3 separate regions of the Homo sapiens genome follow, and regions 2 and 3 are each linked to region 1. Evidence: fine-mapped expression QTL. A gene starts in region 1. Each other region holds a variant in brackets. All regions are shown on one strand. Distances are from middle to middle. Region 1 holds the start of GSG1L (GSG1 like). Region 2 overlaps GSG1L (GSG1 like). Region 3 overlaps GSG1L (GSG1 like).

What was found. PIP is the estimated chance that this variant, and not a neighbour inherited with it, causes the effect. A credible set is the group of variants that fine-mapping cannot tell apart.
Region 2: its variant is the best candidate, but not a certain one, in a credible set for the expression of GSG1L in tibial artery (GTEx, PIP 0.57).
Region 3: its variant is the best candidate, but not a certain one, in a credible set for the expression of GSG1L in aorta (GTEx, PIP 0.55).

Annotation. Positions count from the first base shown.
Region 1 is chr16:28,061,439-28,065,642 of GRCh38, reverse strand. It overlaps GSG1L (GSG1 like), which reads left to right and starts at 1,929. Exons shown (of 7, transcript NM_001109763.2): 1 at 1,929-2,567. The coding sequence starts at 2,219.
Region 2 is chr16:27,793,217-27,797,420 of GRCh38, reverse strand. The region is part of intron 6 of GSG1L (GSG1 like); the gene reads left to right. Among named protein-coding and RNA genes, the nearest start is that of KATNIP, 250 kb to the right of the region's middle. RefSeq lists a silencer at 1,126-1,326. The variant T/C (reference allele first, on the strand shown) is at 1,894.
Region 3 is chr16:27,800,153-27,804,356 of GRCh38, reverse strand. All of the region lies in intron 6 of GSG1L (GSG1 like), which reads left to right. Among named protein-coding and RNA genes, the nearest start is that of KATNIP, 250 kb to the right of the region's middle. The variant T/G (reference allele first, on the strand shown) is at 1,953.

The DNA.
Region 1 (4,204 bases):
CACTTTGGGAGGCCGAGGCGGGCAGATCACTTGAGGTCAGGAGTTCGAGACAAGCCTGACCAACACGGTGAAACCCCGTCTCTGCTAAAAATATGAAAAATAGCCAGGCGTGGTGGCAAGCGCCTGTAATACCAGCTACTCGGGAGGCTGAAGTATGAGAATCGCTTGAACCCAGAAGGCGGAGGTTGCAGTGAGCTGAGATTGCACCACTGCACTCCAGCCTGGGCGACAGAGTGAGACTCCATCTCAAAAAAAAAAAAAAAAAAAAGATGCTACTGGATTCTTTACAGCTGTTTGGCGATGATGTATTTTCTCTGTCAACCAATACTCTCAATGCCACCATTATCACATGGAGGTCCTCTCTTTCAAAATAGTTGAGAATCTCTTGCACAGTGCCAGAAAAGGGCTCTAAAAGCAAGTTTGGAGACCCTTGGCCATCCTTCGTGCCTGCTCTTACCAGGGACGTTGCCCACAACGTTTTCCTCTCACCTACCCCCCGGCAGATTAGCAGCAGCTGACAGTGGGTGCCGGCTCACCCACAGGAGTAAGGCAATTCATAATCGGTTAACCTTGAATTCTGCAAGGCCTGCCACTCGGCAAGCCGGGGGTTGTCGGAGCAGTTCTCAGCTTGGGCAGAATTCAAATGAGCTCTTATAATCAACATGCAATTAATTGTTGCACGCCCTGAGCATCTGGGCAGTAAGTGCTGTGCAGCGCGAAGGGAGTTCAGGGAGCGTGGTCATCTTAGAGCAGAGGTGGGGACGGGGTTGCACACAGTTTCCACGTTGCACAGGAGAGCCTGAAGAGGTTTGTCTGAGTTTGGTCAACTGATCTTGGTTCAGATGTCAGTAACAGTGAATTATTAATTGAGTCTACTGTGTGCCAAATGCTTTTTGCAGCCATGATCTCATTACAGCAGCCCACTGTGATATACCTTGAAGGGGGGGGGGTCCTCCCTTTTTTATAGTTATGGAAATTGAGGCTCAGAGAGGGTAAGTGACCTGTTCAAAGCCACACAGCTGGTCAAGCCCTAGATATGCTTGATCCCAAAGTCAGTATGTTTGGCCACCCTGCCCCCACCCGAATCTTGAAGATTCTACCCACATTCACATGGTGTGCATGTGAGCAGGGTTGGCAGCCCCTGTAGGGCACCACTGCCTGGTAGCTGCAATAACTTTGTGGCCGGCATGGGCCCTCCTAGGGTTCTGCTGTTTGGGATCTCAGGTGGGTGCAGTGGGCTGTCTGGGGTACCCTGTTGCCACTCTTCCTGCAGTTGCATGCCATGGTTGGGAGCCCAGATGACAGTTTCATCCTTGGAGGGGAGCTCTTCCCAGATGCTGGAGGTGACACCCAGGAGACAGAAAAACGTTTCAAACCCTATAACCCAATACTCCAGGAGGGGCGCCTCCTGACAGATTCTGCCACTCCAAGTCCAGCATGGGTTGTCTTATCCAGGGGGTCTTGCAGCTCCCTGGCTGTGGGAAGCCCTGCAGGCTCTGCTGTTTAGAACCTTTGGAAAAACTCCTTTCTCAGGGTCTGGTGCGGGGGTCCTTTTGGGGATCCCCTTCTGGGACAGGGTCCTGCTGGTCCGTGTCCCTCTTGGGGAGCCCCAGCAGGCTCTGCCCTTGTCTCCTGGGGCAGGGCCTCTCTGGGTCTCATGAGATGCCCGCTCCCGGCGGGTTTTGTTGCCCCACGTCCGCCGTGGGGATCTTTTCTCAGGAGCGCCTTGCCTGGGATTCTCCTTGCGTCTCAGACCCTCACCCTGGCTCGGATTTCTTTCGGGGGCGTCCCTCCACTCCCAGGCCCCCGCCCGCGCCCGGCGTGGCGGCCCCCTCTCCCCGTGCGGGCGGGCTCCGGAACAGTGTCGCCGGCCGCCTGCAGGTGTCTCCCCACGGAGGGGCGCGCGTCCCTGCGCCGTGGCCGCTGCCAGGCGCCAGCGGCTCCTAGCCGAGGTGCACTCGCGCTCCGGGCTCCGGGCGCGCCGTAGCCGCTCCTCCACCGCCGCCCGCCCCGCCAGCCCGCCCCGCACGCCCCCCGCGCCGCGCCCCCACCCCGGGGTTGGGGGGGGCATGGGCCCGCGCCGCGTCCGCCGCCGCCGATCTCAGGCACCCGAGCCCCGGGGCGCGGCGGGCAGCGGCCGCTGACGCGGGGCGCCAGCTGCCAACTTCGCGCGCGGAGCTCCCCGGCGGTGCAGTCCCGTCCCGGCGGCGCGGGCGGCATGAAGACTAGCCGCCGCGGCCGAGCGCTCCTGGCCGTGGCCCTGAACCTGCTGGCGCTGCTGTTCGCCACCACCGCTTTCCTCACCACGCACTGGTGCCAGGGCACGCAGCGGGTCCCCAAGCCGGGCTGCGGCCAGGGCGGGCGCGCCAACTGCCCCAACTCGGGCGCCAACGCCACGGCCAACGGCACCGCCGCCCCCGCCGCCGCCGCCGCCGCCGCCACCGCCTCGGGGAACGGCCCCCCTGGCGGCGCGCTCTACAGCTGGGAGACCGGCGACGACCGCTTCCTCTTCAGGAATTTCCACACCGGCATCTGGTACTCGTGCGAGGAGGAGCTCAGCGGGCTTGGTGAGTGCGCGCGGGCGGCGGCCAGCTCGGCTCCGGCTCCCCCGGGGCGGCGCGGCCATCGAGGCCCGAGCCCCGGACCCGTTCGCCCTCCTCCCGCCGCCTGGGCCCAGCTCCCAGCGCTCCGCCTGGCTAGGGGCGACGTTCCGGGGCAGGGGGCGCGCGCCGTTCCGGGGCCGGGGACCAGCATGGGGGGACGTGCGGGACGCCCCGCCGTGGAGAGGTGCAAGGCAGAGCTCCTACCCGCTGCGGACGCCCCGCGGCTTTGGGGACGCTCCCGCGCCCCGGGAAGGCGCCCACCCCCGCTGCCGGTCGGAGGGGCGCGCGCTGCTTTCCGCTCCTGAACTCATCTCCACGCTCGCCCCCTCCTCCTCTTCCTTTCGCGGGGCACTAGATGCCCCCACCCACCCCGGAACGCCCCTGGGGGTGGGGGTGATGCAGGGACTCCTGCTACCAGCCGCCCCTCCTGCCGCAGATCCACAGACCCGGGAGCCTTCCACCCCCATCGCCAACCCACGCCGAACCTCCCAGACGGGAGTGGGGAGTGGGGGAGTCCCGCGGGCTCCCGGAAAGCCGCACCCGCCCAGAGGCACCCCTATTGCCAGACGCCAGGGAGCCCTCTGTATCCTGGCCCCCTCCTGGGAGAGGCAGGCTAGGGAACTGGGGACAGCTGGGCAAACTCCGGGTCGAGGAGTCCAGGAGGGCTTAGCTTAGCACAAGGCTCCTATTAGGTTCGGTGGGGGACTGACTTTTCAGAAGGCAGATCAGACTGTCCCCTTTGCCTGGACCCCCTCCTCTACCCTCCAGAGGCAGCCTGGGCTGGAGTGCGTGTTTTGGAGGCAGACAGCCGGGCTGTGGCAGGGCCCAGGGGACAGCTGCCGGACAGCTGGTTGTGCCACACAGCAGGTAGAGCTGGCCCGAAAGACGTGGTATCTCTGAGCGGGTGTCCAGGCATGGACACCCTCCTGAGTGAATTGACCTCTTTCTCCAAGGTTAAAACTCCTCCCTGCATGCCTAGCTCCTCAGTGTGGACACCACACATATGTGTGTGCTCAAGGGTGGGTTACAGCAGACCTCCACCCTTAGTTTGCCCTAAATAAGCCAGTGGCCTAAGTGGTTTAGAGGGCAGAGGGAGGAAGCTGTGAAGCGAACCCAGTGAAAAGCTCCAGGCCTCTGCACAGGCTGCATCCTCTGTCTGGAATGCCCTTCCCCGCCCCACCTCCTTCTTCAGGGGCTCCTTTCACTGGGACTCTCCCACCTGCCTTCCATGTCAGGATACTGAGGAGGGACAACCTTGTGAGCTCCCCGTTGGAGGGAGGGTCTCCATCTTTGGATCTCACCACTGCGTTTATCTCCCTGCCACACTTGGCACTCCCTGACATTTTCTGGGGCCTGTTTTTGGTCACTAGCTTATAGTCCCCACTCCCCATAGGATGTCACTCTGTGAGGGCCAGCCCGGTTGGTCTTGTTCACTGCTGCCTCCCAGTAATGTCTAGCGCATAGTAGGTCTTCAATAAACATTTGCCGGGTGCATACTGGATGGGGTTGGGATGATGAACCGGAGGCTTCCTGCGGTGCTGCCTCCTCTGTCTCTCTTCTGGGGGTGGCTGACCAAACTTTTCTGTGACTTGAGCCAGGCT
Region 2 (4,204 bases), 270 kb after region 1:
CTCCCAAGTAGCTGGAATTACAGGCACCTGCTACCACACCAAGATAATTTATGTATTTTTAGTAGAGACAGGTTTTCACCATGTTGGCCAGACTGGTCTTGAACTCCTGACCTCAAGTAATCCACCTGCCTCAGCCTCCCAAAGTGCTGAGATCACAGGCACTGCCACTGCACCCAGCAGATTTCATTGTTTTTTAATGGCTGCATAGTTTTAAATCTAAGTATCTGTTGATGAGAGCCCAACCTTTGGAGTGAAGCTGGCTAGATTCAAGTCTCAGCAGTGAGGCCTTGAAACAATGACTTAATTTATCTGGACCTCGGTTTCCTCACCTGTAAAATGGGGATAATAATGGCACCTAACTCGTATTTTTGAGGATTAAATGAGTCCATGGACAGGAAGCACATTGAATGGTTCCTGGCACACAGCAGGAGTGGGAGGCATGTCTGGTCTTGTCATCTCTTCATATGTGTGCCTGTGAGCACCCGGGGGGAGGGCCGCATCTCACTCACGTCTGTAAACCCAGCAGCCAGTGTGGAGGCTGACACACAATACATGCCCAACACATGTCTAAATAAAGGACTGAGGAATCAGGGGCCCTGGGGAGAGGTGGCAGGTGCAGTGGACTTTGTCTCATCCCAAGGGCAAGAAAGAGACAAAGAGAATGTTATGGCTCAGAAACGTGGAATCCCTGAGGATGACCCCAGTGGAGAGATAGATGGCCCCCATTCAATCTCCTAAAACAGCCCGCCTGAGGTAGACCAGAAGACACAAACTTCCCTCCATACGGGTCCGTCCCACTCAAGCCTGCCCTTCCTCCTGAGCCCTCCACCGTTCACTCATTCTGCAGACACGTGCTTTCAACGCTGTGCCTGGGACCATGCTGATGCAGGGATGCAACTGTGAGGGAAAGCAGAGCTGGCCTTTGTCCTCCTGTGACACATGCCTCAAAGGCAAGATGAGGAGAAAACCAGTAAACAGATATTCCCATATGTGATGACACCTCTGAAGCCCTCTCATGGTAGAGATTTGTGGACCTAGAAGAGCGATGAGAGTGTCACTAGCTGACAGGTTTCCAAAGCCCGATTTCTTAGCGCCATCCCTGATTCATTTTCCACCACTCTTCAAGCTTCCTTTCTTTCTGGAGGGCAGAGGTCAAGGTTGGGCAGACAGACAGTTGGCTTTGGGCGGACCTGTGAGTCCTATAGAGAGAGGCTTTCAGCACCTCGGACAGCGGCTGGGTGATTGGCCGGAAGGAACTTCCCTGTAAAGGGATCCAGCTGATCTGTGCCAAGCTGGGCTACTGTAGGGTCAGGAGCATCAATACCTGCCACCTGTTACCCTCACTCTGCCAGCTGCAGAGAGACCTTGAGCAAGTCAGTTTCCCTCTAAGTGCCTCAGTTTCCCGATCTGTACATTTGTGGTGGCATTGACGTTCCTGGTCTTGAAGGGCCCTCCCAACCCAATGAATCCATTTTGGAACAGTAGATGTGATTTAATTCAATTCAGCAATTATGTCTGATTCCCGGATCTTGGTGGCTTAGAGAGGGTTCAAGACAGTGATTCTTCACTGAGGGAGGCGGGAGATGGGGCTGGAGGAGATCTGATGTTAAATATGTTCATGTTTTGATATCTGGATTTAAAAGGGAAGAGAAATCACACCTTTGGGGAACCTCCTGTGGTCAAATACTCTGCTAACCTTGGGAGGTTCCCAGAAAATGGAAACCACAGTACCTGCTACCACGCTCTGAGTGGGGCCTTGACAAATCTTTTCCCACCCATGGGCCTTGGTTTCCCCATTTGTGAAGAGAGGCTTTCAAACCCAACCTGCTTCTAGTGCTTCCAGAACTGTGTTCTTTCCACTTCTGTCTGTGTCTGAGATTGGACAGTGAAGGG[T/C]TTCTCTGCAGGGTGCCTGCTGGGCCTGCCAACTCCTTTGTAGCTTTCATCCATTTGCAGGCTCAGAGAGGTGAAGTTGCTTGTCAGAAGCCACACGGCTTAAAAAAAATTCACACAATTTGCAAGCAGTGGAGGCTGGGTTTGAACCTTTGGCTGTTAGACCGAAGTACGGTCTCCCCAGCCCCCTGCCATCACCTGAGCCTTCACCCAAAAGAGGAGAGTTTGAGCAAAAACCCTTTTCATACTGTACAGAAGCTCAGAGCAGGTAGAGCAGGTGCATCCCAAGCGCAGGAATCACTCTCTCCCCTTCCTCCATGGTTTCTTCATTTGTTTAAAAAGAAAAAAAAAAGAGTCAGTTTGGGACTTGCTCTGTGCTGGGCCAGGGGCTGGGGAATCAGGGCTCCAAGATGAAGCAGACCCTGGCCCTGCTCATAAAGCTGTCTCCCATCCCCAGTTTCATTGGGGAGACCCATGCTGACCTGGCTATTACAACACAAAGTGATGAGTTCGGGGAGAGAGTTATGCAGGCTGCTGAAGGGCACAGGGAAAGGAGCAAAGCCTCCATTTTCCAAATGCTGCCAGCTCTAGGAAGCATTCTACAGGGCTATGGAATGCTTCCCAGAGCAGGCAGCATTTGAAAAAATCAGGGAGTCAACAGCTGGAGAAGAGCAGGGAAGGGCGCTCCCACCTAGGGGATCAGCCTATGCAAAGCCATGGAACAGAATCATGGAACGAAGACACAGGCTGGGATCTGCCTCTCGTGGGCTGAGTGCAGCCTGAGAAATGCTCTTTGGCCCACAGATTGTTGAAAATACATTTGAAACCTTAATTGTCATCATTTAAAAGCCAGGAGGTTTTGTTTCGAGATCCAGATTTTCAGTTTCTTTGAAAGTTTTGGGCCGGGCGCGGTGGCTCAAGCCTGTAATCCCAGCACTTTGGGAGGCCGAGGCGGGTGGATCACGAGGTCAGGAGATTGAGACCATCCTGGCTAACACGGTGAAACCCTGTCTCTACTAAAAGTACAAAAAAATTAGCTGGGCGTGGTAGCAGGTGCCTGTAGTCCTAGCTACTTAGGAGGCTGAGGCAGGAGAATGGCGTGAACCCGGGAAGCGGAGCTGGCAGTGAGCCGAGATCGCGCCACTGCACTCCAGCCTGGGCAACAGAGCGAGACTCCGTTTCAAAAAAAAAAAAAAGAAAGTTTTGAAGATCCAGCTGGGCATGGTGACTCACACCTGTAATTCCAGGGCTTTGGGAGGCTGAGGCGGGAAGATAACCTGAGGTCAGGAGTTCAAGACCAGGCTGTGGAACAGAGCGAGACCCCATCTCTACAAAAAATAAATAAATAATTAGCCAGGGATGGTGATGTGCACCTGCAGTCACAGCTACTCAGAAGACTGAGGCAAGAGGATTGTTTAAACCTAGGAGCTCGAGGCTGCAGTGAGCCATGATGGCGCCACTGCGCTCCATCTTGGGTGACAGAGTGAGACCCCATCTCAAACAAACAAACAAACAAACAAAAAAACAGTTTAGGAAGATCTGAGCCCACATTCTCCTTGGTAACAATTGGCACTGTCTCTGACTCACCTCATCCATTTACATTGCCTGCTTGGGCCCACAAGACATTTTGAGTTGAGATTCCCAATCTACAGCACAAGGCCTGGGAGAGAAGAGAAGTGGGTGGGGGTCCCTGGTGGGCTGCTGGAGTGTTCTCCTCTGTATACACACACCTTAAATGGCTCTGAGCCCCAAGTGCCTCCTGGGTAGCCAGAGAAAGGGAGGAGGGCCCCAGTCCTCAGCATCTTGCCCTCTGCATCCAGGGGACAGACAGCCTGATTTTAACTCAGGGAAGGACAGGGATTGTGGCCTTTCCTTTTCCTTAAAAAATACACTATCACTTTCTTTCTGTTCTGATGATCTCTCCATGGCTCTGCTTTTCAGCCACTGTACAAGCAGCTAAAATTATGCCTAAATGCTTATTTAGAAAAACAATCATACCTTTCCATGCACCAAATATTTGCTTCTAGATTAAAAAAACAAAACAAAACCCAAACACCTCTATCTTGGCAGCCAACACTTCCAAAGTATGCAATGGTTTCCATGACTGAGGCCAAAACAAATGTGTTTTTCTGAAGCCAAATGATTCCAAAATGTTTGCAAAATGTTTCCCACCCCTTAATAAATATAGTAAAACTTGCAAAACACTAACATTAAGGAATATTAAAAGCAGAAAGAAAAAAGTGAAAGCCAAAAATATTACCCCCCACCCCAGCTATGGACACAACCATCTTCCTCTTTGACTCTTGTCTTGCAG
Region 3 (4,204 bases), 260 kb after region 1:
TTTGCAGGCAGAGGGACCTGTGTGTCCGACAGCTGGAAGGAGCCAGACAGTGCTTGTGGAATAGCCAGGAGACCAGGGTGGCTGAGGCAGGGAGGGCAATGGGAGGGCAGGAGAGCTGGAGGGGCCGACGGTGGCAGGAGGCAGGACAGGGACGGAGTTCGCTATGCAGTGGAGGGGAAGTTGATTCTGCAGCAGGGAGCCCGGGGCATTTTAAGCAGGGAGAAGACATGTCCACATTATTTCTCTCTCTCTCTCTCTGTCCCTCCCTATTTCTTTATCTATCTATCTATCTATCTATCTATCTATCTATCTATCTATCCATCTAATCTATCTATTCATCCATCATCCATCTATTATTCATCTGTCAATCATCTATCCATCAATCATCTATCATCTATAAATCTTACCATCTATCTAATCTATCCATCCATCATCTATCAATCGTGTCATCTATCTACCTATTTATCTATCATCTATCTACAGATCCTATCTATCCTATCTACCATCTATCTATCTATATATCTATATCTATATCTATATCTATATCTATATCTATCTATCTATATATATATATATATATATATATATATGTCTGCACTGTGGGAAAAGGATCAGAGAAGAGCCAAACTCGAGACCAGGAGACCATCTTGTAATCTACAATATGCACAAAATGTTTTGCTGTTGCAGTCGTTCTTGGGAGACATGATGGTGGCGGCCTGAACTGTGGGGTTGGAGATAAAAGTGGGTAGCTCAAGGACCCTCTGCTGGTAGAATTCCTAGAGTGTCTTGGTTTGTGTTTCCCTGGAAGTCCCTTGAGATGAGGATATAACAGCAAGTGCTTTATTTTGATGATTGAACACCCAACTAGGAGTGAGGAAGAGAGACTAAGAAGGGAGACAAAGGCGACCAGTCAAAGGCACAGCGTCGAGCCTGCTGGGGGCTGGGGGCACCAGTGCAGAGCATATGTATCTGAGCCATCCCCCCAGATAGGAAGGCAACTCTCCTGGGCCATTGTTCAAGGGCTGCCGCAGAGAGGGTCGGGTGCATGAGTTCTCTGGAGGTAATGGCTCGGGGCATGGACAGAGGGGCTTGGGGCGCGATGGAGAAAGCCCCCTTGCACAGTTGGGGGTTAGCAGTGTGCACCACCGTGGAGCTGGGGGGACAGCATCAGATAAGTGACTGATTTGAGTGAGGACCGGGGGAGAGGAGGGACCTAGGATATGCACAGAATTTTTGCCCAAGCAGTCAGGGGCATGGGGTCCCTGACTGATGGAAGGATATGGGGAGGGGTCAGTTTGTGAAGGGCAATGTTGCTTTGTCTGTGTGGAGTTTGAGGGGCTCGTGAGGGCCTCCAGGAGGCAGCCAGATCAACGGAGGGGAGCTTAAAAGGGTGGCAGAGAGACAGGCAGGTGCAGTGGTGCATGCCTTAATCCCAGCTCTTTGAAAGGCCAAGGCAGGAGGATCATTTGATGCCAGGAGTTCGAGACCAGCCTGGGCAACATAGCAAGACCCCATCTTGAAAAAAAAAGTTAAAATTAGCTGGGCATGGTGGTGCAAGCCTGTATTCTCAGCTACTCTGGAGGCTGAAGTGGGAGGGGAGGATTGATTGAGCCCAGGAGTTTGAGGCTGCAGTACAGTATGGGATGGTTGAAGCCCAGAGACTGCAAAGATCATCTGAGGAGAATGTGTAGGGTAGGGAGACACAGTGACACAAAAGGGGCCTAACCTCCTGGGGGTTCAGGGGAGCCAGAGGCCGGTGGGGAAAGAGCTGTGGAAAACTGTCAGTCGCCCCCAGAGACTTTCCAAATCCTGGCTTCTCAGGGAAGAAAAGAGCCTGAGACCCCACAACCCCTGCGCCAGGTGTACCTTTTATCAGGTAGCTGAGCATTAGCAGGGATGGCCGTCATTCCCTGGGGATAGCGGAGTTGCTGGGAACTCCCACGTCAAACAGC[T/G]AATAAGGAAGAGACCCCCTCTGTGGTCAGAGCTGAGGGAGGGGTCAGGGGAATGTGGGCTGGATGCTGGCATGCGTGAGAGATCCCGTGACTTCAGGGATCCTGAAGCAGGCTGCTTTATTTATTCCACAAATCATTACTAAGGAGACCTCTCTGGCTCCTGGGAGCATGGAGACGAATAAGGCACGTTGCTGGACCCTGTTGACTTCCAAGTCTTGTTGGGGAGACAGACCCAAGCCATTCGTGCACTGTGTGGCCAGAGCTTGAAAGGGGTCAATGCAGGGTGCGGGATAGCAGGGCATGGTGCCTCATCCCACTCAGGATGACATGGGGTGCAGGAAAGGGAAAGCAGGAAGGGGGGACTTAGCCAGGGTGATACCCCTTGGCAGGACCTCCAGGGCTATCATGATGATACCTGCATTTGATTACGGAAACAGCCAGCAAGAAGAACTCAGTCCCCTAGATCTAATCACAGTATCTCACCTTTGTGCATGTTCTCAGGACTTTGCACTTATTCACTCATTTAACCCTAAATACGGACCCATTTTACAGACGAGGAAACGGAGGCCCAGGAGGTTAAGACCATGGCTTACTCAATACACAGCTAGAAAGTAGCAAAGCTGGGATTTGAACCCGGCCGGTCTGACCTCATCACCCACACCCTGGACCGCTAGGTGATGTCAGTCAGCAGCTCCATTGGTTGGGCAGGGTACTGAGGATGTGGGGTGCCTCCAGACATGGCCTCGGTCCTCTTGGAGCTCATGGTCTAGAGAAGCAGCCGATCAAATGAGTATGGAAATGATGCCGTCTCAGAATTCGGCCTCTTAGCTGCTAGTGGGTTTTCAGCCAAGAAAATATTTTGGAAATGCCTGGACGAGTTTTGCAATATTTCTGCGGGGAGCAGCTGCTCAGATCCTGCGATGGGCTGACTTGCCGGCAGGAGGAACGGGGGAGGCGGGATGTCAGGGAGCCGGCATTATTAAACACTTACTGTGTGCAGGTCTGTGCTAAGCACTTCTCTGCCATCTCATTTGATGGCTGATCCAGCCCTGAGAAGCGGGGATTCTTCTTCTAGAAATACAGTGCTGTAAGGCAAATCAGCTTTGCTGGGATCTCTGGTTCACTCGGCAATAAAACTCAGCTTGGCAATTAGATCTTGCTCCTTACCCTGGGAGAGAGGCCACTCCTTCTCAGGCTCCCAACCCCGTAGGCCTCTTCCCCATCTCCCATGCTGCCCCAGCCAACCTGACCTTCCTCTTTCTTGAACACGCAAAACTCATTCCCTTGGTAGGACCCTTGCACTTGCTGTTCTCTCTGCCTGGATGCTCTCCCTCTAAATCATGGTGTGGCTGACTTCGTCTCATCTTTAAGTCAGCTGAAAGGCCGCTTCCTCCGAGAAGCCTTCCCTGATCTGCACCAGCTTCCCCAGTCATCCCCATATCACCGGGTTCTCTTTTCTTCCTAGCATTTGTCCCTCTCCGAAATGATCTTTTATGTTCACATGCTTGGTTTTCGTTTTGCTGCCTCTCTCCACCAAGTGCCATGAGAACAGGCGCCTTGAGTGTTTTGTTCCTGTGTATATCCCAAGAGTCTAAACTAGTGTGTGGCACATAATAGGTGCTTAATTGTTGGCTGTCAACCTCCACGTTTCTCCCACCACCTCCCATCTGAGAAGCCACTTTTATATTAGCAATTACATAAACTTCTGGTTATCCTAACTGTCCCCAAAGATGTTATTCTGGGGGGCTACTGTGATATGGATTTGGCTATAATTTTTTTTTTCCTGAGGAAGTTGCTTTTGAAACCTGCCTTTGGGGCTTTGTGGCGCCACCAGCCAGCTCAGGAGCACATCAGACGTGACATTTGATGGAGGCGATGTTGCCATATGGCCCAGGTGTCTGCATCTTCCTTTCAGGGGCGACTGAGGTTTGCAGTTGATTGCAGCTGTCAAGTTCAATGCCTGAGACAAGGTTTTGATTTTGCCAGGTGTATCTGTAAGGCTGGGCTCCACGAGAGGCTGTCGCATGCTGGGCGCGGAGGTGGCTTCTGGGAGCTCCATCTAGATGGGTCTCTGCCACTGCTGCTGCCCTCAAAATAGCAGAGGGAATTTCAAGAAAGAATTTTTCTGGACCCAGAGCAACTTGGCATTTTTATTAGATCAAAATCAAATCCAATAGAGTCCTGCTCGAGTTGCTTCCTTTATTAAAATGGAAACAGACAGTATTTCTAAAATAAATATCAATGCCAATTTG